Linked DNA regions of Homo sapiens. The protein of the gene in region 2 interacts with the protein of the main gene of each other region in a pairwise test. Each region holds a gene or a part of one and is shown on either strand. Other genes may lie near its edges. The genes, in order: TTC19, FAM136A and MAGEB4.

What was found.
Region 1: the proteins of FAM136A (region 2) and TTC19 interact in binary tests that used the Homo sapiens proteins (3 or more experiments, as listed by UniProt).
Region 3: the proteins of FAM136A (region 2) and MAGEB4 interact in binary tests that used the Homo sapiens proteins (3 or more experiments, as listed by UniProt).

What each region holds. Positions count from the first base shown.
Region 1 is NC_000017.11:16,022,846-16,030,421, forward strand, and holds the end of TTC19 (tetratricopeptide repeat protein 19, mitochondrial isoform 1 precursor), read left to right. Parts: intron 1-2,171; coding exon 2,172-2,326; intron 2,327-3,694; coding exon 3,695-3,857; intron 3,858-4,528; coding exon 4,529-4,677; 3' UTR 4,678-6,559; downstream 6,560-7,576. UniProt on the Homo sapiens protein: Required for the preservation of the structural and functional integrity of mitochondrial respiratory complex III by allowing the physiological turnover of the Rieske protein UQCRFS1.
Region 2 is NC_000002.12:70,298,321-70,307,303, forward strand, and holds the start of FAM136A (protein FAM136A), read right to left. Parts: upstream 3,748-8,983; 5' UTR 3,692-3,747; coding exon 3,284-3,691; exon of another isoform or gene 2,661-3,283; coding exon 2,520-2,660; intron 1-2,519.
Region 3 is NC_000023.11:30,237,634-30,245,767, forward strand, and holds MAGEB4 (melanoma-associated antigen B4), read left to right. Parts: upstream 1-4,366; 5' UTR 4,367-4,502; coding exon 4,503-5,543; 3' UTR 5,544-6,554; downstream 6,555-8,134.

The DNA.
Region 1 (7,576 bases), on a different chromosome or scaffold from region 2:
GAAGTTATTTATGAAAGAGAATCATTTATGTTTGAAGAAGTAAATATGCCTCAGTTTCAAATGGTCCTTTAAGGGCTCTGTATAAACGATTCCAATATATTTCTCAGTTGTTATTAAAGTACTTGATTTTTTTCTTGTCTAACTTTTAGCAATTTTTATATTAATATTTCAAAGAACCATGTTTAAGTAAATTACTAGCAAAGGAACTCTTTGGGGGAACTTTATGAAATTTTCTCTTGGCAGTTGCTAAAAGTTTTCTTACGTTTTCTAAAAGTTCAGTAATAGTACATTTATCTTTAGAAAAGTTTGCTTTTCAGAAAGTGTTTCCATTTTTCTTGTGGTCAGAATGTGCTGTGAATTTTAAATGTATTTTTAAGATATTATAGCTAAATTGTACCTCACTGTTTTCTCTAAAAAGTTTTACTGCTTTTGCTTCCACTCCACTATTCAGTGATAACAAGGGTAACAAGTTTCCACTAGAATTGCTTGTCACTTTATTCTTGTACTTTTGTTTTACTACTGAACATCTTTTTAAATCGTTGCCACAAAATATCTCGCTTTTATCATTTTCACATTGCTCTAGTATATCAACTTTGGAAACAAGACATCATTCTATTTATAGCATTCTGTTTTTAGTAGTGGTATTTCCATTTACAAAATACAGTAATTCTTGATCGCTGAAGACGTCAAATCCTAGAAAACATAGCATGCCTACGCGTGATGTTAACATCATTCTCGAATAGTTGTTGGTTGAAGATTCATTTGATGAATCCGATTTTTCAGAAATAGACGAGTCTGATGATACAGACGATTCTGGTGTTAGTTCTCTGTAGAAATAACTCCAAGAACACTTTTAATAGTTTATTTTCACATTGAAAATCAGATTTGCTCCAGCCTCAAAGAGTATATTTATGTAAAATTAGGTAAGCGATATAGAAGCAAGCTGCACTTTTTTTCTAAATGGGAAGGTATTAAAAAAGAAAAGTCTCATTTTAGTAACATAGTCTTCCTTAAACTCTATGCCACTTGTAAGATTTCTGAAAACTGAAGACATAGAAGGGAACGGGCTTGATATGAACGACAGCTTTGCTGGTAAATAAACCCAACTGAACCTAAGATTATCTAAGGTAACCTCTTTTTCTAGTCTTTTATTGTGTGAACAGTTACCTCCTGCTGAGTTGTTGGCAGAATTTCCATATAATCTTGCTTATGACCATTTCTACATTATTTGTATCATCTTTTAGAAGTCTTACCCAGGTTGATATAGGTTACCGTTCTCTAGATCTGTGTCTCCAATTCTTCTTACATGGCATTAGGTATTTTAAGCTTGTTTTTTTTCAGACATCGTATAGTCAATTCTTGAATGTGTTGAGAGGTGCTATGTCATTGTAAGCTTTATTCTTCTTCTCTGAATGATTAGCTTGTTTAAATTTTACCTTAAATTCTTTTTTTTCTTTTTTTTTCTTTTGAGACTGAGTCTTGCTCTGTCGCCCAGGCTGGAGTGCAGTGGTGTGATCTCGGCTCACTGCAAGCTCCACCTCCTGGGTTCACGCCATTCCCCTGCCTCAGCCTCCTGAGTAGCTGGGACTACAGGTACCCGCCACCACGCCTGGCTAATTTTTTTTTTTTTTTTGTATTTTTAGTAGAGACGGGGTTTCACCATGTTAGCCAGGATGGTCTCAATCTCCTGACCTTGTGATCCACCCGCCTCGGCCTCCCAAAGTGCTGTGATTACAGGTGTGAGCCACCGCGCCCGGCCTTTACGTTGAATTCTTTAAATTCAGCTTGTGACTTTGCACTTCAGGATTCTGAGTGTTCTCTGTCTTCTTCCTGCATTGTTTTTCTTATACCATACAGGTTTTTCATTGGCCTTGACTTTTTGTTGTTAACTCATTCTTCTTTGGGTTTATTTTCATTTGTTTCTGCTGAATATTATTTGTTTCAAACTAAAAATAACATTCCACATTTTAATTGATGTGCGGACTCTTAATCTACTTAAAATGTGGGCTGAAGTTCCATGATTCCAGCTAGTCTGGAATAGGTCATTTAACTGGATGTTAATTCACCTACATTGTTCCCTAAGTGACATGTGGGTCCCATTCTGCTGACATATTTGTGGGTCCTGGTAACAACCATTTGGGTAGATTTGCTGATTCCTCTTTTCTCCTTAGTGGAAGAGAAAGCCAATACCCACCTCCTCTTGGGCATGTGCTTAGACGCCTGTGCTCGCTACCTTCTGTTCTCCAAGCAGCCGTCACAGGCACAAAGGATGTATGAAAAAGCTCTGCAGATTTCTGAAGAAATACAAGGAGAAAGACACCCACAGGTAAGGGAGGAAAACACAGAAGGGGGAATATAAAACAAAGGCTTCAAAATTGAAGGGTGTGAAATGTCACACTCATTGGTAACAGGATCAGCAGATGGTCCTAGATCCTCCTTGGTCCCCAGTCTACTCATTTTCTTATCACCAGCACCCTCACCCCAACTACTTGTTTCAGAAAGGATTTGAGACTAGTTATCAGTTACTAGGTCTGCCCAGAACTTTTTGCATGATCCATGGTTTGCACAACAGAGCAACCTTTCTACAGAGCAGGACTGGTCAGGCTTCAATGGACACAGCACAGTATTTCAGAGTGGGGTCTCTAGATACCCCTATTAGAAGCTTATGAGGAACGGTTTAATACACAAATATCCTTGCCTCCCTTGCCCCACAGTTAAAATGGCAAGAGGTGAGGGAAGGGCAAGGGACCACATTAAAAACACTTAAACCATTGGCATATTATAGAATTTAAGTATAACGTGTAAAGCTCTGTGTTAGAACATTAAACACATTGAATTGAAATCATCTCTTTGGGTCTCCCCTCCATCCGAGTAAGTTCTTAGATGTAAGGAGTGCATTGCTTTGTCTATGAATGCTTGCTACTGCCAATATAAGACATAACAATTTTAACTGAATGTGTCCCAAGGCTGGGGTACATGGGTAGGGTGAGTAATATGTTTTGGAAGAAAAGGGAGGTTGAGCTATGAATTATCTCCATGAAAGGGATTTATAACTTATTATGAAGAGTCCCTTAATGGAGTGAGGAATAATAAACAAGCAAGTACAGAATTCAGATCTCCAAGTACTAGAGTCAGGGGGCTTAAAGCATGGCATCAGTGGGGAAGTAGGTATGGAAGTCTACCTCTTCCATACTGAAATTCCATTTCAGTAGCCAAATTAAAAAAACTCCTACTGGGCATCTTCCTAAAATAGATGGTGTATTTCTTGTTTTTGATGAGCCTCAGGGTTATCAGCAGGAACAACATAATACAGTGGGGCTCCAGAGGCAATCAAACCATAGGAGGCTGGCTTCTCAAAGTTGCTCAGCCTTAAAGGAGATAATATGTGTAGCTTCTTGCTGTTGTTTTTCATTTGGTGCTTCTAACTGGGTAATTAGTTGGATTAATAAGCACTGTCTGTTACCTAATTTCCAGATTTGTATTATTTCCCAAAAGGTCGAACTAACATTGTCCACTGTACAATGTGATTATGATTAACAAATGCCCACAAATTTGTTAAAGAATGGTATCCCTCATCTTTTGTGGAATGCTAGGAAAGATGAAATCTTATGTATTCAGAGTTGGATGCACTCCACATTAAAGTTCTGTGAAGGCATGTTTTTAAAGAAAAAATTGTTTTTTCTTTTACATACAGACCATTGTGCTGATGAGTGACCTGGCTACTACCCTGGATGCACAGGGCCGCTTTGATGAGGCCTATATTTATATGCAAAGGGCATCAGATCTGGCAAGACAGATAAATCATCCTGAGCTACACATGGTACTCAGTAATCTAGCTGCAGTTTTGATGCACAGAGGTAGGTAGCAATGTAAACTTAACTGACTTGCTTTAAGGGAGGGATGTCACTGGATTGATAGATTTGTGAAGTGGTATGTAGGGAGGGCAAGGGCCAACGAATAAACATGTAAATTAAAAGACTGGTTGAATGGCAGAAAAAGGAGGTATTGATTAGGTTGAAGTACTATTGTGTTCAATTCACGTAACTTCTACAGACCTGCACTAGCCTGTCGAACCCCATCAAGCTGGAGAAAACCTTGCAATGATAGTACCTTACGTCAGTAGTGCTTTACAGATTTCTAAATGTGTTCAGTTACAATGTGTTTCTCACAGTGTGCTGGTGAAGCTTTATGACAGGAAGTATCATTTTGTCAGACATTTCTTAGTGTCAGCACACTATACCGATCATTTTCAGAAACCTGGGATGACAGGTGTATTACACATACCACCATTCATGAAATCTTGGGCTCATCAAAGTCCTCAGGATATACTGGAAAGGGCCGTTAGGAATCCCACAGCATTCAGTGGAGTTCCAGCCTGTCAGATGGGGATGAAATGAGGCAGCACCAGCTTGTCGCTTCATAAGCACACAGTAAATTAGCCCTATATCTGCATTCATGCTCTCTCTTCAGAATCACCTTGAAAACATACACTTTCTTCTTACTGTCCCTTCTCTCTGGGTTATTTTAGAACGATATACACAAGCAAAAGAGATCTACCAGGAAGCACTGAAGCAAGCAAAGCTGAAAAAAGATGAAATTTCTGTACAACACATCAGGGAAGAGTTGGCTGAGCTGTCAAAGAAAAGTAGACCTTTGACAAATTCTGTCAAGCTCTAAATCCATTTTTGTGTAGGGAGAATAATGTCTAGTAATGTGGAAGAATAGCTATCATTCCTGTCTCTGTGGCACCCGATCAATGGCTTAAATCTGTCGTTTTTGATATTCAGGTTTCCTCAATTTAGCCTTAGTGAAGGAGGGGTTGTACACACTGCCATTTTTGTATTTTAAAGGAAAAATGACTTTCATTCCCAACTGATTATGACCTTTCAGGATGTCGTCAAGTGATGCTTTCAGTTGTAACACGTGACTTGGTGCTGTCCCTGCTGGTCTAAGTAGAACTGTAGATTCATATGGGCTGGTGTTCCTGTGCGCTGTGGGTGTGGTGATTCAGCCTGGCATTTCTACCATAAGTTTTTGGTCTGCTGATTTGCTGCCCTGTCTTCTCTTACTTTACTTTATCAATACCTGGCAAACTGACCAGAATTACCTTCCTCATGGCAAAGGGGGATTATGGTGAATTGTTGTTCTTATAGTCTGTTTCATGAAGCACAAGTGGAATTTAATACATAAAAGAGAAAAATATCTTAGTTTGCTACCAGCATCCAGCATGAAGTTGTAAAGTGGGGATTAGGCACGTGACAGTATAGCACCCATTTGAATTTAAATAAAAGTGAACCATATTTATCTGGTTATATAAAACTAAAAATGGGGGTGTTTATATAAAACTAAAAACTAAGAATGATGTAACCTTTTGTCTGTGTTATCTGAACACTCTACTTCCTTTGCAGCCTTAGTCACACAACTGAGTCATCTCAAGTACTCTTTAAGGACACACAGCCCAGGCTGTTCTGAGTCAGAATAGGCCCCTACAGGTATATTTTAAAACTCTTCGTAATTCTAATGTGTACTGCTGGTATAGCTGAACTACTGACCTGGATCTTAGTCCTAGCCTTTTTGCTTTTGCAATTTCAGTATCTTCATCTCTAAACTAGGGAAACACTGGGATTCTTTCTTAGCTGTGGGGGAAGGTATTTGGTTAGATGACTTTGAATGAATAGACTGCTGTGCTGAAAGAGCTTTATCACACTGTCTCAAAGTATGTAAAGATACATAGGTGGATGCTCTTACTGCAGCAGTCATGAATACATTTTTAGCCATTTACCTAAGGAAAAAGACAGTTTTTCTAGGTACCATGAAGGAAGATTGACCCTGTTGGTATGCCTGTGGGGGTGGGATGTGAGTGGGACTGATAAACTGATACTTTTGGTTCGTATGTACATACTGGAAGAATCTTCATAATAAATGAGACTACACAACAATATTGTATGTATCCCAGTAATCTTTGCATTTCTCAAAAAAAAAAAAAAAAAAAAAAAAAAAACTTTCTGAAGAAAATAAAAACACCAGAAACCTTGAGGTCCAAATCCTCAGGGATTAGACTAAAACTAGAGTTTTGTATGTTGCAGATGTAAATTTCTTCCTATTTTCTGTCTAATCTCATATTATTTACCATGCAGCTAATGCCGTTTACCAAGTCTAGCTCAGAGAGATAAGATACAATATAAATCAGACTGTTTCAGTAGAAACCAGTATTAACGTATGGTGATTTCTTAAAAAAATTAATGTCAACCACTCACCTTTTGCATTGAGAATGTTTTTACCTTTTCACAACTGCAGGGGTTACTGAAAGGTTTTTCATTCCAAGTTTTATTTATTTATTAATTTTAAATCATCCACAGTGACTCAGCTCATGGTCTCGTTGTTGGAAACACTAGGAGTTTTCAGGACAGTCTCTTCATGTGGGTGTTTTCATTACAGTTCATTTACACTGTTGTAAAATAAGGTACTGAAGCAAAAGGAGGACTGATCTCCTTTACTGATTGGTCTAAATTCAAAAGTGAATTGGTTAAAATCGTGTCATTAAAATTTTTTAACTGTCCAATGGTCACTGGAGTTTTCTGGGCATAAATATTTTTAAAATAGAATCACTCAGTGTACCAAAATTAAAAGCATTATGAAATTTGCAGTCATAAACATGCAGTGGAAAACTGGCTGTCAGAATACTTTTATGAAGAGTATTAGGAAGACCTTAATTTAGTTCTGGGTGCTAAAAAAATCACGTGTAAGGATATAGTGTCAGAACACTGAAATCTAAGTCTACAAAGAATATCATGTTTTGGTTTGCAGTGAACCACAGTAAGTTGTCAGTGCTGCTCTGTGCTTACCACTTAAATCATGATAAGGTGAACCTCCATAGGTAAACCATGTGAGAATTCTGTCCTTTCATTTATTTTGAACCAAGAACTATTATTGGATTTTAACTCTCATTCTGAGATTTCTTCTCCAGGTGATGGTAAATAAAGTAATACGCACATGCATTATGATGAGGATGGAGGGAGTGGTTCACAGCACCTCACCTTCGGGTCCTCAGGTAGAACTGCAAGAGTAAGAAGTTAGGCTCTGATCTGACATGTTCTCAGAAACTATACGGTTGACCTTCAAATAATGCAGGAGTTAGGGGCATAGACCCCCTAAGTAGTCAAAAATCCACATCTAACTTTGACTCCTCCAAAACTTAACTACTCATGGCCTACTGCTGACCAGAAGTCTTACGGATAACATAGTCGATTGACACATATTTTGTATATGTATTATATACTGTATTCTTACAATAAAGTAAGCTAGAGAAGAGAAAATGTTTGTTAAGATTATAAGGAAGAGAAAATATATTTACTATTCATTAAGTGGAAGTGGATCATCATGAAGGTCTTCATCCTTGTCATCTTCATGTTGAATAGGCTGAGGATGAGAAGGGGTTGGTCTTGCTATCTTGGGTGGCAGAGGTGGAAGAAAATCCATGTATAAGTGGACCCACACAGTTCAAACCCGTGTTGTTCAAGGGTCAACTGTATTCTGACTCAGAATAGCTTAAGACCCTCAGGGTCATAGAAAAATA
Region 2 (8,983 bases):
CCCAACCTCAGGTGATCCACCCGCGTCAGCCTCCCAAAGTGCTGGGATTATAGGTGTGAGCCACTGATTCTTTAAAGTCTGTTCTTTCTACAGGAAAACATTCAATTCAACAAATATTTATTGAGCATCTACTATGTGCCAGGCACTCTTTTAATGTTAGGGAATATAGCAATGAGTAAAACAAAGTTCTTACCCTTACAGAACTTACATTCCAGTGAGAGGAAAGAGACAAACAAAGTAAATGGAGATGTGGAGGAATTAGTTGGATATGTGAATGTGGAGTTTATCAGTGAGCTCTGGCCTACAGATATAAATGCAGGAGCTGTCAGCATAGAGATTATATTTACAGCTATGAGGCTAGAGGAGACTAGAGAAGTAGGCAGAAAGGAGAAAAGAAACAAGGACAGCCCCAGGCACTCTGATGCTCAGAGGCTGGAGTGGGGAAGAGAGAGCAAAGGAGGCCAAGGAAGGAGGCAGAAAACCAGGAGAGTGAGATGTCCTGGTGACCAACTGAATAAAGTGCTTTAAGAAGGAGAGGGATCCACTGTGTCAATGATGCAGACAGAGTAAGATGAAGACTGAGAAATGACCCCCGGATTCGGCCCCATGGGGGTGAGTGGCAGGAGTGGTTCTGGCCCAGTGAAGAGTGAAAGTCCACTTGGAGAGGACTAAAAAGATAATGCAAGGGAAGTTATAGAGCAATCCAAGAATCACATTTTCAAAGACCCCATCTATAAAATTAGCTGTCAAAAAGAACACAAAGAAACCCTTTGGGGTTCCATGATCTTGAAGAAGTTATTCCTTCATAATGGCAGTAACTTTGAAGCGTTTTGAATGGAAGAATGTAAAGATGTGTCACATTATGTATAAGTTTCCATGTGGATGGAACCTCAGGCTATGAAAGGCTGGCTTGGAAGTAGGCTTGCTTCCCCCAGGTTCCAGAAAAATATACTTAGAAGATGGGAGTAAAATGAAGTTGTGGATACTCTTTGCTCCAGAGAGGGAAACAGGGAGCTCTTTTGGTAACCTCAGAGGGGCTTGTGAGCCAGGAATCAGTGAGTCAACAGTAATAATGATTCACATAAATGACTGCTCCTTAGTGACAGAGGGGCTGCCCTCTGGGTATAGCAACTAGGGGCAGTCCTGGGTGGGTGTATAAGTCCACAAAATGGTGGAAGGGTGTTCCTCGAATCTGTACCTTTTCAAGGCTATCCTACCTTTCTAGAGATTCTGCTGTTTTAAAAATAATATATGTTTTAGGAAACTTTATTTTTTTATTTTTATTTTATTTATTTTTTGAGACGGAGTCTCGCTCTGTCACCCAGGCTGGAGTGCAGTGACGTGATCTTGGCTCACTGCAAGCTCTGCCTCCCGGATTCACGCCATTCTCCTGCCTCAGCTTCCCGAGTAGCTGGGACTACAGGCGCCCACCACCACACCTGGCCAATTTTTTGTATTTTTAGTAGAGACGGGGTTTCACTGTGTTAGCCAGGATGGTCTGGATCTCCTGACCTCGTGATCTGCCTGCCTCGGCCTCCCAAAGTGCTGGGATTACAGGTGTGAGCCACCGTGCCTGAACATTATTTATTTTTTTTTGAGACGGAGTTTCGCTCTTGTTGTCCAGGCTGGAGCGCAATGGCATGCGATCTTGGCTCACTGCAACCTGCGCCTTCCAGTTTCAAGCGATTCTCCTGCCTCAGCCTCCCGAGTAGCTGGGATTACAGGCACCTGCCACCATGCCCAGATAATTTCTGTATTTTTAGTAGAGATGGGGTTTCACCATGTTGGCCAGGACGGTCTCAAACTCCTGACCTCGTGATCCACCCGCCTCGGCCTCCCAAAATGTTGGGATTACAGGCGCGAGCTACGCGTCCAGCCAGGAAACTTTATACTACACAGTATACATTCTGTATTTGGTGGTTATGTCAAAAGGAACAAACAAACGCCTCCTCCCCAACAAACTGCATAAGGGCTCTTGGTCATGAACTCCCCTGGTAACTCCCCATTACATCATTTCTTTTTTTTTGAGACAGAGTCTCGCTCTGTTGCCAGGCTGAAGTGCAGTGGCGCGATCTTGGCTCACTGCAACTACACCTCCTGGGTTCAAGAGATTCCCCTGCCTCAGCCTCCCTAGTATCTGGGACTACAGGTGCGTGCCACCACGCCTGGCTAATTTTTTGTATTTTAGTAGAGACGGGGTTTCACCATGTTGGCCAGGATGGTCTTGATCTCCTGCTCTCATGATCCACCTGCCTCAGCCTCCTAAAGTGCTGGGATTACAGGCATGAGCCTCCGCGCTCGGCCTACATCATTTCTATAGGAAATGATGTTCAACTTAAGGCACTCGACCGCCAAGACTTTTTCCAAAATTTCAAACCCTGTGAAAACTGGTTGGCCATCAGTATCACAACTGTTAACAGAACCAAGACACTAAAGCCAAGAGTTTTGAACAAATGCTTGTCATCTCCTGCAAAAGTCTGTATCAAGGACTACAGTGCTCTGTCTAGGATATTTCTCACCTGGAACTTCTCCAGCTCACTGGTGACCAAAGCCTGGGCTTGAGCCAGAGGCACATGGCAGCGCTCGATGCACTGGTGCACCTGCTTCATGGAGGCCTGGCTGTCCTCACAACAGCTGGCGCTGCACCGGAACATGAGACCCTGGGGAGAAAGGGCAGAGAGGTTAGGTAGGAAAGTCTCTGGGGACAGAGATGACTATGGAGCACTACAGGAGTTAGAAGGCCACGTGGATATTTGCACCTCTCTCTCCACCTTCTGCTTTCACCTTCCCTGAGAATAGACACCAGGACCTTAAAACCACCACTGGGGAAAATTATCCTCAATGTCTAGTGTAGTGTTTCATGGTGTCCTTGCTGCTAGCTCATCGGCACCTGTTGCACCGATGGTTGGGTGAACAGAGGTTCGCCCGAGTGGGTGAGGGTAGGGTGGTCTGACGAAGCCAAATTCTGAAAACCAGGAGCCTCTTCCATGGGGTTCAGAGGTCAGCAACCTAGCAATACAAATTCCACCAGAGGGCAGCCGACCCACTAATCAATGACTCAAGGGGCACTATCTGGGAAACGCATACTCCGTGAGAGAAGCAGGACCGAAACACACAGAGGCATTGCGGGGCTCAGAGAAGAACAGTGTAGAAACCCGCGCTGTGTGAAGCGAGGTTGGGCGCAAGAGAAGCAGGCATGACCTGGCCAACGGGGAGGCCGGAAGTCCTCGCCTTTCTGGTCTTTCACGTTGGCAGCGCCTCTGCTGGGCCTCGGGCCGCTCACCTGCGGAAGGGGCCGCGTAAGAGGGGAAGGTGGTGGGGCGAGCGCCTGCCACCAGGGGCTTCCCACCTGCCGCCGAGGACGCTCCTGCCCCGGGCTGGAAGGGGCGGAAAACAGCCTCGCGCACGGCAAGGGCACACGGATTTCATCCGATCCGCCAAAGCTTCCGAAGTCCTGTCCGAGGCCGCCCCGGCGACCCCAGGGCCGCCCACACCCGGTCTGCGGGGACGCGGCTGCAGTGCAAGGCGTCGCGTGGTGGCTGAGGGAAGGGCCCGGAACCCACCCGCTGAGAAGGGGGTCCTGGTTCGGCCCCAGCCCCGCTACCTGCATCTTCCGGATGTTCTCTCTTTCCAGACTCTTCACCATGGACTCCACCGCCTCCTGCACCCGGAGCTGCTGCAGCTCAGCCATGGCGACCCCGCGCTGCCCCGCGGCGCTCCGCGCCGGCGCCCATATGGAATCGGCGTACGGGCCCGCCCCCTCACCGCCCTTCGCCGCCCTTCGCCGCCTGCCCTTCCAGGGCCCACGCCCCCCCCTGGCGGCCGAACGGAGCCACTGCATGCTGGTGTCCGCGAGCCCACCGCCCTCCTCCCGCTTGGGAACCGGTCACTGGGACACCTGCCCTGCGGCTGCTGCCTGCCTTTCCTCCTCCCTCCCATGTCCCTCCCTTTACATTCTTTAAAATTATTTAATGTAATTTACATACAGATAAATGCCCAGATCTTAGGCGTGCTGCTTGATGAGTTTTAACAAACCCTGTCCGCCGGGCGCAGTGGCTTACGCCTGTAATCCCAGCACTTTGGGAGGCCGTGGGCAGGTGGATGACCTGAGCTCAGGAATTTGAGACCAGCCTGGCCAACCTGGCGAAACCCCGTCCCTACTAAAAATACAAAAATTAGCCGGGTGTGGTGGCACATGCCTGTAGTCCCAGCTATTTGGGAGGCTGAGGCAGGAGAATTGCTTGAACCCGGGAGGGAGAGGTTGCAGTGAGCCGAAATCACGCCATTGCACTCCAGCCTGGACGACAGAGTGAGACTCTGTCTCTAAACAACAATAAAAACCCAAACTCTGTCTTGTCCCAATCTCCGTCCTTTCTACCCCATCTCCCCACCCCTGCCCTAACTGGTCTGCTTCTGTCACTGTAGATTACATTTTCTCTTTCTAGAATGTCATATGTATGTTATTATCCAATAAGTACTCCTTTTCTGTCTGGCTTTTTTAGCATATTGCTGAAAAATACTTAGCCTAATGCTTTCGAGATTGAGCTGTGTTGTTGGTTCTTTTTTGCTGCTGAGTAGTATTCTATTGAATGGACATACCACATTTGTCGTTGTTGTTTTTTGAGACAGGGTCTTACTCTGTCACCCAGGCTGGAGTGCAGTGATGTGGTCTCGGCTCATGCAGCCTCCACCTCCCTGGTTCAAGTGATTCTCATGCCTCAGCCTCCCGAGTAGCTGGGATTACAGGCATGTGCCACCACGTCTGGCTAATTTTTTTTTTTTTTTTGTAGACACGGGGTTTCACCATGTTAGCCAAGCTGGTCTCCAACTCCTGAGCTCAAGGGATCCACACACCTCGGCCTCCCAAAGTGCTGAGATTGCAGGCATGAGGCATCGGTCCCGGCCCACATTTGTTGATCCATTCCCCTGCTGATGGGTGTTTGGGTCTTTTCCACTTAGTAGCTATTATGAATAAAGTGGTGACTATGAACATCCTTGACCATTTTTTTTTTCTTTTGGAGATGGGATCTTGCTATGTTGTCCAGGCTGGTCTCAAACTCCAGGCCTCAAGCTATCCTCCTGCCTCTGCCTATCAAAGGGATTACGGGTATGCACCACCACCCAGTCCTGGACCAAGTCTTTTGTAGACACAGATTTTCTTTTCTTTTGGGTAAATATCTAGAAATGGGATTGTTGGATCACAGGGTAGATGTATGTTTATGCATTTATTTCTCATAAAAAATGAACTTCAGAGACAAAGCAGGGGCTACAGATCATCAATGAAGCAGTCATCAATGAAGCACTTACATGCCAGCAACATGAAACTGTTTCTGAATTCCTGGAGCAGTTTTTTTTTTGGAATGCCTCACTGTCCCACCCATAACAGTACTGTCGTGTGCATTCATTTATCGAATACATTAGCTAGGGGTGCGGGTCCAGAGGGGAGTGTCAGTGGAGAAGGGAAACACACTCCGTGGAGAAGGGGAAGGGGCAGTGTTGGAAGAGGTGTGCTGGAGGAGGTGGTCCAGGCTGGCAAGGAGGGAGTGAGCCATCCGGGTTCCTCAGGAAAGTTTTCTTAGAGGAGATAAGGCTTGAATTGAGGCTTTGAATTGAATTGAAATGAGTGGGTGTTTGCTTGGCATATGGGGCTGAAGAGAAAGCCATGTCAGGCATGGGGGTGCAAGGTGGGGGTGGGGGAGGAACAAAGGAATGGGGCCGTCATTAGAATTTAACGATTTTCTGCCATTGGGCGCTAGATGGCAGGAGAACTCTAGTTTAGGGCAGTGGGGAGTTTGACTCAACCCAAGCTTCTTTGAAGAAAGCTATGTTTTGATTGGGCACGGTGGCTCACGCCTGTAATCCCAGCACTTTGGGGAGCTGAGGCAGGTGGATCACCTGAGGTCAGGAGTTCAGGAGTTTGAGACCAGCCTGGCCAACATGGTGAAACCCCATCTCTACTAAAAGCACAAAAATTAGCCGGGCGTGGTGGCAGGCACTTGTAGTCTTGGCTACTTTGGGAGGCTGAGACAGGAGAATCGCTTGAATCCGGGAGGTAGAGGTTGCAGCGAGCTGAGATCACGTCACTGCACTCCAGCTTGGGCAACAAAGTGAGACTCTGTCTCAAAAAAAATAAAATAAAAAATAAAAGCAAGCAAGCAAGCAAGCAAGCAAGCAAGCAAGCAACCAAACAAGCTGTGTTCTTCCAGCGCCAGGCCCTCTCTAGTGAGTACAAGTGTGAGTATCTCCCCATAAATCACAGTTCAGGGTCTTGAGACAGCCTGTTCACTTCAAGCTCGACTACAAGTGGCTCCCAGCAGCAGCTGGAATCAGGGCGACACCAACTATTAAATAATGTGCCAGACAGTGTTTTAAGTGCCTTCCACGGGATGATCTCATTTAATTTCCATGACAAAGCACCCTATGAGGTGGGTACTTTACTCTCCTCTCTTCTCTCACTCAGGGCAGAAAACTGAGGCCTAGGGAGATGAAACCACTTGCCAGAGATTGCACATTTATAAACTGGTGGAGCTGGAATTCCAATCCTGATGGGCTAACTCCAGACTAGAAAAAGTAGGAAATCTCTATTGTGACTGACTTAATGTTTATACTTATGTCCCATATTCCACAGAAAGTTCTTTCTTTCTTCTTTATAGCACAATCTGAAACTACTCACTTCTCCCTCTTATTCCTAAAATGCCAGACAGAACCTCTCCAACAGCTCCTACTTGTAGGAGCCAAGTTAATCATGCTAAAATGAGTTTAAAAGTCCTTGAGTAATGCAGCCTTGTTAGTTTCTATACACAAATTGAATGGTACTTTTAGTATTTACGAAAAATGATTCTTGGCTGGGGCGGTGGCTCACATCTGTAATTCCAGCACATTGGGAGGCCGAGGCGGGCAGATCACTTGGGGCTGGGAGCTTGAGACCAGCCTGGCCAACGTGGTGAAACCCCCATCTCTACTAAAAATATAAAAACATTAGCTGGGCATAGCGGCACACACCTGCAATCACAGCTACTCAGAGGCTGAGGTGGGAGAATCACTTGCACTCAGGAGGTGGAGGTTGCAGTGAGCTGAGATGGTGCCACTGCACTCCAGCATGGGTGACAGAGCGAGACTCTCCCTCAAAAAAAAAAAACAAAAAAACAAAAAAACAGAAAAAAAAAAACCCAGAAAAAAAAAAAAGAAAAATGATTCCTGACTTCCAGTTAGTTGGCTGTGGAAATCCCATGGGAGTCATGGTGGAAGCAGAGTTTAATCTCATGTTAGGAAGCTCAGATACCTGTCTGTGCTATTACCCTGGTGCTTTGAGGGTGGGAAATGAGGTTTCAGGATTATCTGGCTCAAGCCTGGGCTGACTCACTGGAAACAAGTCACAGCTCTTTCAGGATCCTGGGTAGTCAGTTCTGTCATCTTGATTCCTTTCCCACCTCTCCTGCATGCCATCCTGTGAACGCAGGCCCCGCAGTGCCAGAGACAAATGGTGGCACAAGAGGGACTAGGGCTCTTTCCTATTTTCTCATGTTCAGGATGTGGGTGAGATAAATGGGGGCCAGGAGGCCCGGGATGAGGGGAGGAAGTGAATTTTGCTAGATGCTGCTACCTTTTCTAACCCTCAGGTTAGCAATGGGTGGTAGCCAGAAACCCAGCTATGGCCAACCTTGGTTAAAGACTTCCAGATGAAACTTTATCAATCAAACTGATAATTTAGAAAGCAATTCTCATGTTATCACTTGTTTTTAAATTAATGCCAACAAGAATGAGATTGAAGTGTTATCACTCTCTAGTCATGACACTCCTTGGTCGATTATGATGCCTTGCTGGGGAAAAGAAAACTCACAAGCAAAGAACACTGTCTTCTGCAGAATGAAGAATTCAGTCAACTTTTTGGAAGTCACAAGTACTTTTTAAAAATATATTCAATTGCTGGCCGGGCATGATGACTCACGCCTGTATTCCCAGCACTTTGGGAGGCCAAGGCGGGTGGATCACTTGAGGCCAGGAGTTCGAGACCAGCCTGGCCAACATGGCGAAACCCCGCCTCTACTAAGAATACAAAAATTAGCTGGGCGTGGTGGCGAATGCCTGTAATACCAGGTACTCAGGAGGCTGAGACATGAGAATCACTTGAACCCGAGAGGCAGAGATTGCAGTGAACCGAGATCACGCCACTGCACTCCAGCCTGTGCGATAGAGACCTTGTCTCAGGTTAAAAAAAAAAAAAAAATATATATATATGTACACACACACACACCCCCCCACACAATTGCTTCAGAGCTCTCTGCCAAAAAAATACATATATATTCAAAACTTTGGTTGAATAATTATTTTATATATGTATATTATTAAATATAAAATAAAGCAAATGTTTTATGATTATAAATATCCAATTATGTAAATATCTCTTGAATCTATTCACATCTCTCTAGCTTACTGTTATCACCCTAAAGCCACTATTATTATTATTATTGCCTGGCCTACTACAGTTGATCCTGTTTAAATCTTCCTATTGTGGCTAGGTGGTGGCTCATGCCTATAATCCCAGAACTCTGGGAGGCCGAGGCAGATGGATCACTTGAAGCCAGGATTTTGAGACTGGCCTGACCAACATGGTGTAACCCCGTCTCTACTAAAAATACAAAAATTAGCCAGGCACGGTGGCATGGGACTGTAATCCCAACTACTCAGGAGGCTGAGGCAGGAGAATCGCTTAAACCTGGGAGGCAGAGGTTGCAGTGAGCTGAGATTGCTCCACTGCACTCCAGCCTGGGTGACAGAGCAAAATTCCATCTCAAAAAAAAAAAAAATCTTCTTATGGAGTGGTCATTTACTTGCTGGCTTGTTGACTGTGTATATATATATATATATATATATATTTTTTTTTTAAATTAAATTAAATTAAATTAAATTAAATTTTTTTGAGATAGAGTCTCGCTCTGTTGCCCAGTCTGGAGTGCAGTGGCGAGATCTTGGCTCACTGCAA
Region 3 (8,134 bases), on a different chromosome or scaffold from region 2:
GATATACACTCTAAGACCAAAAGGATACATGATAAGAAGGGAGGGAGGTGGTTCCACATGAGAACAGTCAAGTATGAATTATCTAATCAAGGCGGTGTTGGGCCTAAGGAAAGTGCAGGTCCCTCAATGGGAGTTAATCTAAGTGAGGCTCCATGGTGGGCTGGATGAGGCTGTGGGAATGGCGAGCAGGGGCCAGGCTCTTAGAAGTTGCCTCTCACGCAGTGGCGGGCGCCTGTAGTCCCAGCTACTCGGGAGGCTGAGGCAGGAGAATGGCGTGAACCTGGGAGGCAGAGCTTGCAGTGAGCCGAGATTGTGCCACTGCAGTCCGGCCTGGGCTAAAGAGCGGGATTCCGTCTCAAAAGAAAAAAAAAAAGAAGTTGCCTCTCAGAGGTGCGAGACAAAGCTTGGAATAGGAAACAGTTCTTAACAGTTACTTTGGGATCATGGATAAATCAGGGAGAATCTGGGGTAGGAATGTGTCCTGTGCTCTTGTCCCAGTACAAATAAACACAGCACACACTAGGTGTTTTGTGCACATCATCTCCAGCCAGTTTCTGAGAAATAAGGGTAATACCCTCAAGGGACGGGGGAGGCCCAGAAGCCACTGTGCTGGTACTCTTTGCCCTGGGCTGGGGGATCCAGAGCCTGTTCCATTAAAAGCGCATTCAATTAGGTTACCTCATTTGTGATTTGGCAAACTCTAGGCAAGGTCTAGATTTTGAGAGGTGGTTAAATGAATCAAAATAAAAGTGGTTTAGATGGAAGGATAGCTGAGAGAGAGGGAAGTTTTTGGTCCTTGAAACTCATTTTAGAATCTGTGTTGCATCTACTGAGGAAGTCTACCTCATACTAATATTGAATGATCTATCAAGTAATGAGGAAATATTATTTAGTTTTCCTTTCTAGGTAGCACTTTGTCTGATAGGGCTTTCTTTGTCTTAGAATATGGTATAATCTCTGACATCTCCTGCATTGAAAAATAAGTCCCAGTGTAGTAGATTGCAACGTCAGGGTACAAATTAATCATAATAAGAACTGGCACTATTATATGTCTCAATACATCTCAAGCACTTTACATACATTGTATACATTTTACCAGTCCTACAAAACAGAGCTTATCAAACCCACTTCACAGATAAAAAGCCTGAAGCCCACAGTCTATTAATATGTCCAATTTCACATGGCTGGTAAGTGACAGGACTGGGACAAGACCCCCAGTCTGAATTAGTGTAAAGCACACTCTGTTCCATGCCTCCCAACCTGAGACTGACTGTGTCCCCTTATTCACTTTTCTTCTCACTACTCCCAAACGTATATCAAGTGATGAAAAGATTCTGTACCCAATCTGCTGGACTGAAATACAGAACCAGAGCAAGGAAATTACCAAAATGGTCAAGAGGTGTGAATTAAGGAGAGAAAGATAATATTTGGTGACAATAAGATTACACATGCAAAGTCAGATAAACTCAAAAGATCATGGGGTCACATTCTGTCATTCTGGACTGTCCCCCTTTTTATAGGAAGTTAAATCTTTTCCAAGAGAAATACATAAGAGGGTAGTAAAGAGAAGAAATAGATCAATGTTTTTTTTTTTTTTTTTTTTTTCTCTGACAGTATGACTTCTATCCTCGGGCTTCTGCCTTGTGTTACAGCTTCCCTATCTTATATCACTCCTGGGACAGGGATGCATTGTCTGCAAGATTTATTATAGGGAAACTGATCAAGAATTTTTAGGGATGCGGCATTTCCCAGGAAGTCATTAACTAAGGGACAAGAGCCAAGATAAAGACCTTCATATAGGAGGACTCAGCAGAACAACATGCCAGACAGAGTTCTTAGCCTGAGCATCTCCTCACTTATTCTTCAAGGTTCTCAGGGACTTGTGAGTTCCTGCATCTCGGGTCAGTAGAGGGAGGAGTGCCATTCTCTGACACATACCAAGTTGAGGACCCTGAATGAAGAATGAGGGAAGCACTCACCCAAATAGCCTTAACAGGATGTGGCTGAACCTGATTTCTACTCCGGAGGTCTTAAGAAGGTAAAGACCATGATCTGAGGCTGGCTGACTCAGGTCCATAGAGGAAGGATTCCTAATGTGTGCCAGGAGTAAAGTGAGTACCCTGAAGAGTGCAGGAACCACCAAACCCCTATCAGTGGGGATCCCACAGAATCCTCCCTATTGTCACCTCTGAGAGATTTAGGCATGAATGTCAGAAAGAGGCACCCTCATATCCTCAGTAGTAACAGAGAAGTGAAGGTCTTGTTCTGAGGTGGGCAATCCCAGCTCAGCAAAGGGAGGAATATTAAGCCTTCCTGTGAGTGAGATTTAGGATCCTGAGTTAGGACCTGAGTAGGACAATCCACCATAAGACCTCAACCTGTCTACCACAGCTGCCACTCTTGGGAGACCATGGTCAGCTGTGGCCAGATAAGGCCACCCTCTTCCTCCTATCTGATCTCAGGGAGGTGCAGGCCTTTTAAATGGAGAGGTCTTCAGGTCAAAAAAGAGGGGAGCCCTAGGATCTGCTAGGAGCCAAATCAAGGAAACCGAGTGAGAACTGAGGGGACTGCTCACCTCTGAATAGAGAGAGCAACAGAGTCCACCCCCCTGCATAACTCTTAAATTGCCAGGGCAACATGTAAGGCTGAGGACTCACCATCACTTTTTTTTTTTAATAATTGACCTTCTTTTTTAGAATAGTTTTACGTTCACAGCAAAACTGAGCAGAAAGGAGAGTCTCACAGGCATCCTGTCCTCCCACAGACACAGCCTCCTTCATATCAACCTCCCAAGCCAGGGTGATACATTTGTTACAATTGAGAATACATGGACACATCATTATCACCCAATGTCCGTAGTTTAGGATTCATTCCTGTTGCTGCACATTCTGTGGTTTTAATATTTAAAAATGTATAATGACATATGTTTACCACCATAGAATCATCCAGAATTGTTTTACTGCCTTAAAAGTTCTCTGTGCCTGATCTATTTATCTCTCACTCTCCCCAACCTTTGGAAACCACTGAACTTTGTACTGTTTCCATACTTTTGCCTTTTCCAGAATGTCATATAGATGGAATTATGCAATGTATAGACTTTTCAAATTGGCTTCTTTCACTTTGTAATATGTATCTAAGTTTCATCCATGTCTCTTTGTGGCTTGATAGTTCATTCCCTTTTAGTGCTGAATAATATTTTATTCTGTTAATTTATCCACTCTCCTTCTGAAGGACATATTGCTTGCTTCCCAGTTTGGGCAATTATGAATAAAGCTACTATAAACATTTGTGTGCAGGTTTTTTTTGTGGACATACCGTTTTCAACTCATCTGGCTAAATAACAAGGAGCGCACTTGCTAGATCATATGATGAAAGTATGCATAGCTTTGTAAGAAACTTACAAACTGTCTTCAAAAGTGGCTGTATCATTTTTCATGTCCATCAGCAATGACAGTGTGCTCCTGTTGCTCCACATCCTCATCAGTATTTGGGGTTATCAGGGTTTTTGATTTTGACCATTCTTATAGGTATGTAGTGGTATCACATTATTGTTTTAATTTGCAAGTCTCTAATGATATGTGATGTTGACCATCATTTCATGTACGTATTTGCCTTCCATATATATTATTTGTTGAGGTGCCTGTTTAGATCTTTTGTCCATTTTTAATAGGGTTGGTCAGTTCTTATTGTTCAGTTTTAAGACATTTTTGTATGTTTTGGTTAACAGTCCCTTATCAGATATGTCTTTTGAAAATAATTTTTTCCCAACCTGGGAGTTATCTTATTCTCTTTGTGGTATCTTTAGCAGAGCAGAAGTTTTAATTTAGCGAAGTCCAGATTATCAATTATTTTCTTTCATAGATGCCCATCACATTTTATACCAGAACTAGAAAAGATGAAATTCTTGGTCTGAAGTTGCAGTTATCAGTCAGCAGAAGAGACAGTCCACAACCCTGCTTGGAGTCCAGATGAGGATCCTGAGTGCAAACTTGGGACCTAAAGAGCCCAGGACAGAGAGAGCACTAAATGCTTCTAGGCAGGGGTGGTGGGTTGAGGGGCCCCTAGACTTCCCTCATCTGGGTCCCAGAAAACTAAAGAGTCAATTTCACAACACCAATAGAGGGAGGCTCAGGCCCTGCCAAGAGCTGACATGACAATTCTAAAGGTAATCAGAGTGGATCCTCTCCAAGCCAGAACACAGAAAGCCCCACTGCGAGCCTTGTTGTCACCCAGTCAGCCCCAGGCAGGGTTGGCAAGCTGCAGCCTAAGGCACATTGTAACTTCCTCAGCTGGCTTCTCAGGGGACAGAATGACTAAGAACAATAGCCCAGTGAATACTTAGAGCAGTGTTCTCAAGGAATCCTGCAGAGGCGGCTTCTGAAAAGCCAAGGTAGTATCTGCCTGCTGAAGGTGTTCTCAGGATTTCATTTGCTCTTCTCCAGGAACCACATCACCTGCCCTTCTGCCTACACTCCTGCCTGCTGTGCCTAACCACAGCCATCATGCCTCGGGGTCAGAAGAGTAAGCTCCGTGCCCGTGAGAAACGCCAGCGGACCCGTGGTCAGACCCAGGATCTCAAGGTTGGTCAGCCTACTGCAGCAGAGAAAGAAGAGTCTCCTTCCTCTTCCTCATCTGTTTTGAGGGATACTGCCTCCAGCTCCCTTGCTTTTGGCATTCCCCAGGAGCCTCAGAGAGAGCCACCCACCACCTCTGCTGCTGCAGCTATGTCATGCACTGGATCTGATAAAGGCGACGAGAGCCAAGATGAGGAAAATGCAAGTTCCTCCCAGGCCTCAACATCCACTGAGAGATCACTCAAAGATTCTCTAACCAGGAAGACGAAGATGTTAGTGCAGTTCCTGCTGTACAAGTATAAAATGAAAGAGCCCACTACAAAGGCAGAAATGCTGAAGATCATCAGCAAAAAGTACAAGGAGCACTTCCCTGAGATCTTCAGGAAAGTCTCTCAGCGCACGGAGCTGGTCTTTGGCCTTGCCTTGAAGGAGGTCAACCCCACCACTCACTCCTACATCCTCGTCAGCATGCTAGGCCCCAACGATGGAAACCAGAGCAGTGCCTGGACCCTTCCAAGGAATGGGCTTCTGATGCCTCTACTGAGTGTGATCTTCTTAAATGGCAACTGTGCCCGTGAAGAGGAAATCTGGGAATTCCTGAATATGCTGGGGATCTATGATGGAAAGAGGCACCTTATCTTTGGGGAACCCCGAAAGCTCATCACCCAAGATCTGGTACAGGAAAAATATCTGGAATACCAGCAGGTGCCCAACAGTGATCCCCCACGCTATCAATTCCTGTGGGGTCCAAGAGCTCATGCAGAAACCAGCAAGATGAAAGTCCTGGAGTTTTTGGCCAAGGTGAATGACACCACCCCCAATAACTTCCCACTGCTTTATGAAGAGGCTTTGAGAGATGAAGAAGAGAGAGCTGGAGCCCGGCCCAGAGTTGCAGCCAGGCGTGGCACTACAGCCATGACTAGTGCGTATTCCAGGGCCACATCCAGTAGCTCTTCCCAACCCATGTGAGATCTAAGGCAAATTGTTCACTTTGTGGTTGAAAGACCTGCTGCTTTCTCTGTTCCTGTGATGCATGAATAACTCATTGATTTATCTCTTTGTTGTATTTTCCATGATGTTTCTTAAAATAGAAAGTTTATTTAGATTCAGAATATAAATTTAGAAATGGCATGCATCACACATTTATTGCTGTTTATCAGGTTGGTTTAGTGATAATAATTTTGTTTTTGAAATACAAATAGAAAATCCTGAAATAATTTTTGTGATACAGAGCAAAATAACACGGCATGGGAGTAAGGTTATCCTTAGAAATTTAAAATAACTCCACAGTAAAATAGGTAGAATCTGAAGATAGAAAGGGAAGAAAAGTAAAAGTTGCTTTATTCGTGGTTTGTCTTACTCAGTTCAGTCTTTTTTTGCTCATAAATTTAAAAGTTACATACCTGGTTTGCTTAGATTATTCAAGAATGTGGAGGCCTGGGCCAAGGTCAATGACAGTGTCTCCATTGTCTTCCCTCCATTAAGAGAAGACTTTAAGAGATGAGGGAGAGAGAGCCAGAGACAGTGTTGCAACTGGGCCTGGCATGTTTCAGTGTGGTGTCCAGCAGTGTCTCCCACTCCTTGTGAAGTCTGAGGTATATTCTTTACTTTTGATTAAGAAAACACTTAACCTTCTAATTAATGGAGAGCCAAAGGGGAGTTGGTGGGAACACCATGTATAACATATTTGTATGTAAAATGATTTATCTTTTCTTTTTCCTGTTTTTCAGTGTTCTTTTTTTAAATTGTAGATTTATTTAGTTTCAGAATCTAAGTTTATGAATGGCATGAATCACTCATTTATTAAAATATATCAGGTTGGAGAGTGAGAATTTTTGCATTATGTAAAACAATTTAAAAATCTTTTAAGTCTTTTTCTGTGATCTAGAACAAGATAATATGGCATTGGAATATGGAATTTGTGAAAAGGAAATTACCTTGCAATAAAGTTGGTGGGACCAGGAAGTAGAGAAAAAAAAAGTAAAATGTGGTCAATTCTTGCTTTGTTTTATTCTTTTTAGTCTTTCTTTGTAAAACTGAAGTATATGTACCCGGATCTGCTTAGCTTTTTCAGGAATGTGGGGGAAATTAAATAGCAATACATTTGACTTCCTGGTCACTTACACTTCAATTGTCCAAATATTAATTGAGCAGCTGTACTTTGGAGGGCTCCTGGCTAGTACCGGATAAGCTAAGAAAACAAAAAACAAACAAACAACAAAAAAACCCCAATCCCTGCCCACAGAATTTTAGAATCCAACAGCAGCTATCATATAACGAAGGTAATGAGATACTCCTTAAGACCTAAAGACAGGTGAAAAGGGGATAAAAAAGAAGGTGGGGGTATTACCAGCAGTGGAATCTAGTGTAAATGTCCTAAGCAAGGTAACTGAGACTTCGGGAAACTGAACATACTGCAATAGGAGGTAATTTTATGTCCTGGCATAGTGCCTATATGGGGCGCACTGAGCAGGGGTCACACACTCAGATGGTGGATCTCACACTTGAGAGATGGAGACTGGAATGAAAAATTGCCTTTAACAGTTACTTTGGGATTGTGGAAAAACCAGAGGGGATCTTTGCCTGGAGCAGGGATTGAAAGTGGCCGGTGCTCTTGTCCCAGTGCAAGTGAAGTGAATCCAGTACACAAACTAGGTGTTTTATGAGCGTAGTCCCCAGGGTGTTTCTGAGAAATAAAGGTGATACTCCTTTAAGACTGGAAACTCATAAGCCACTGGGCTAATACTCTGCTATCAGCTGGGGAGCCAGAACCCATTCCATTAAAAGGAATTTTTTTTCCTTTCATGTGTTTTTGCAAATTCTAAGGGAGATCTAGATTTTTGATGGTGGTAAAATGAATGAAAATAAGACTGGTTTGGATGAAAGGTCAGAGTTGGTCCTTGAACCAAAGCCTAGAAGGTTTGAGTTGCTTTCAGCTGAGAAAGACAACTCCACACTCAAAATATGATTTAATATGGAAAAGTTATTTAGAGTTTCTTTGTAAGCTGCGTTTTGGGCTGATTTTATTGTTCCATGTCTTAGAATGCTGTATATTCTTTGTTATCTCTTGGACTTAAAGAAAATCAGCAGGGTGGATGATTTCTTCTGTAGTTGAAATAATCTTAGTAATAACAAGTATTGTTTAAAGTCTCAATGCACACCAGGGCTTTGCACACTTTCACCACATTCCACCAGTCCTACAAGACAAGGCTTATCAAGCTCATTTCACAGATGTAGAGCCTGAGGCTCATAGAGTTTATTAATGTGCCCAAGTTCACACAGCTAGTAAGTGATAGGGCTGGAACTAGACTGCTGGTCTGAATTCCTCTAGAGCCCACACTGTTCCACTCCTCCCAAACTGAAGCTTACTGTGAATTGCTTAATTCATTTTCTTCTACAACCCCAAAGTGTGTCTCAGGTAAGAAAGAAGAGGTCTCTGTACCCCAAACACTGGATTGGAATACATAACCAGAGCAAGAAGAATACCAAAATAATTGACAGATGTGAATTAAAGAGAAAAAGAAATAATACTCGGTGACAATATGATCACCGACAGAAGC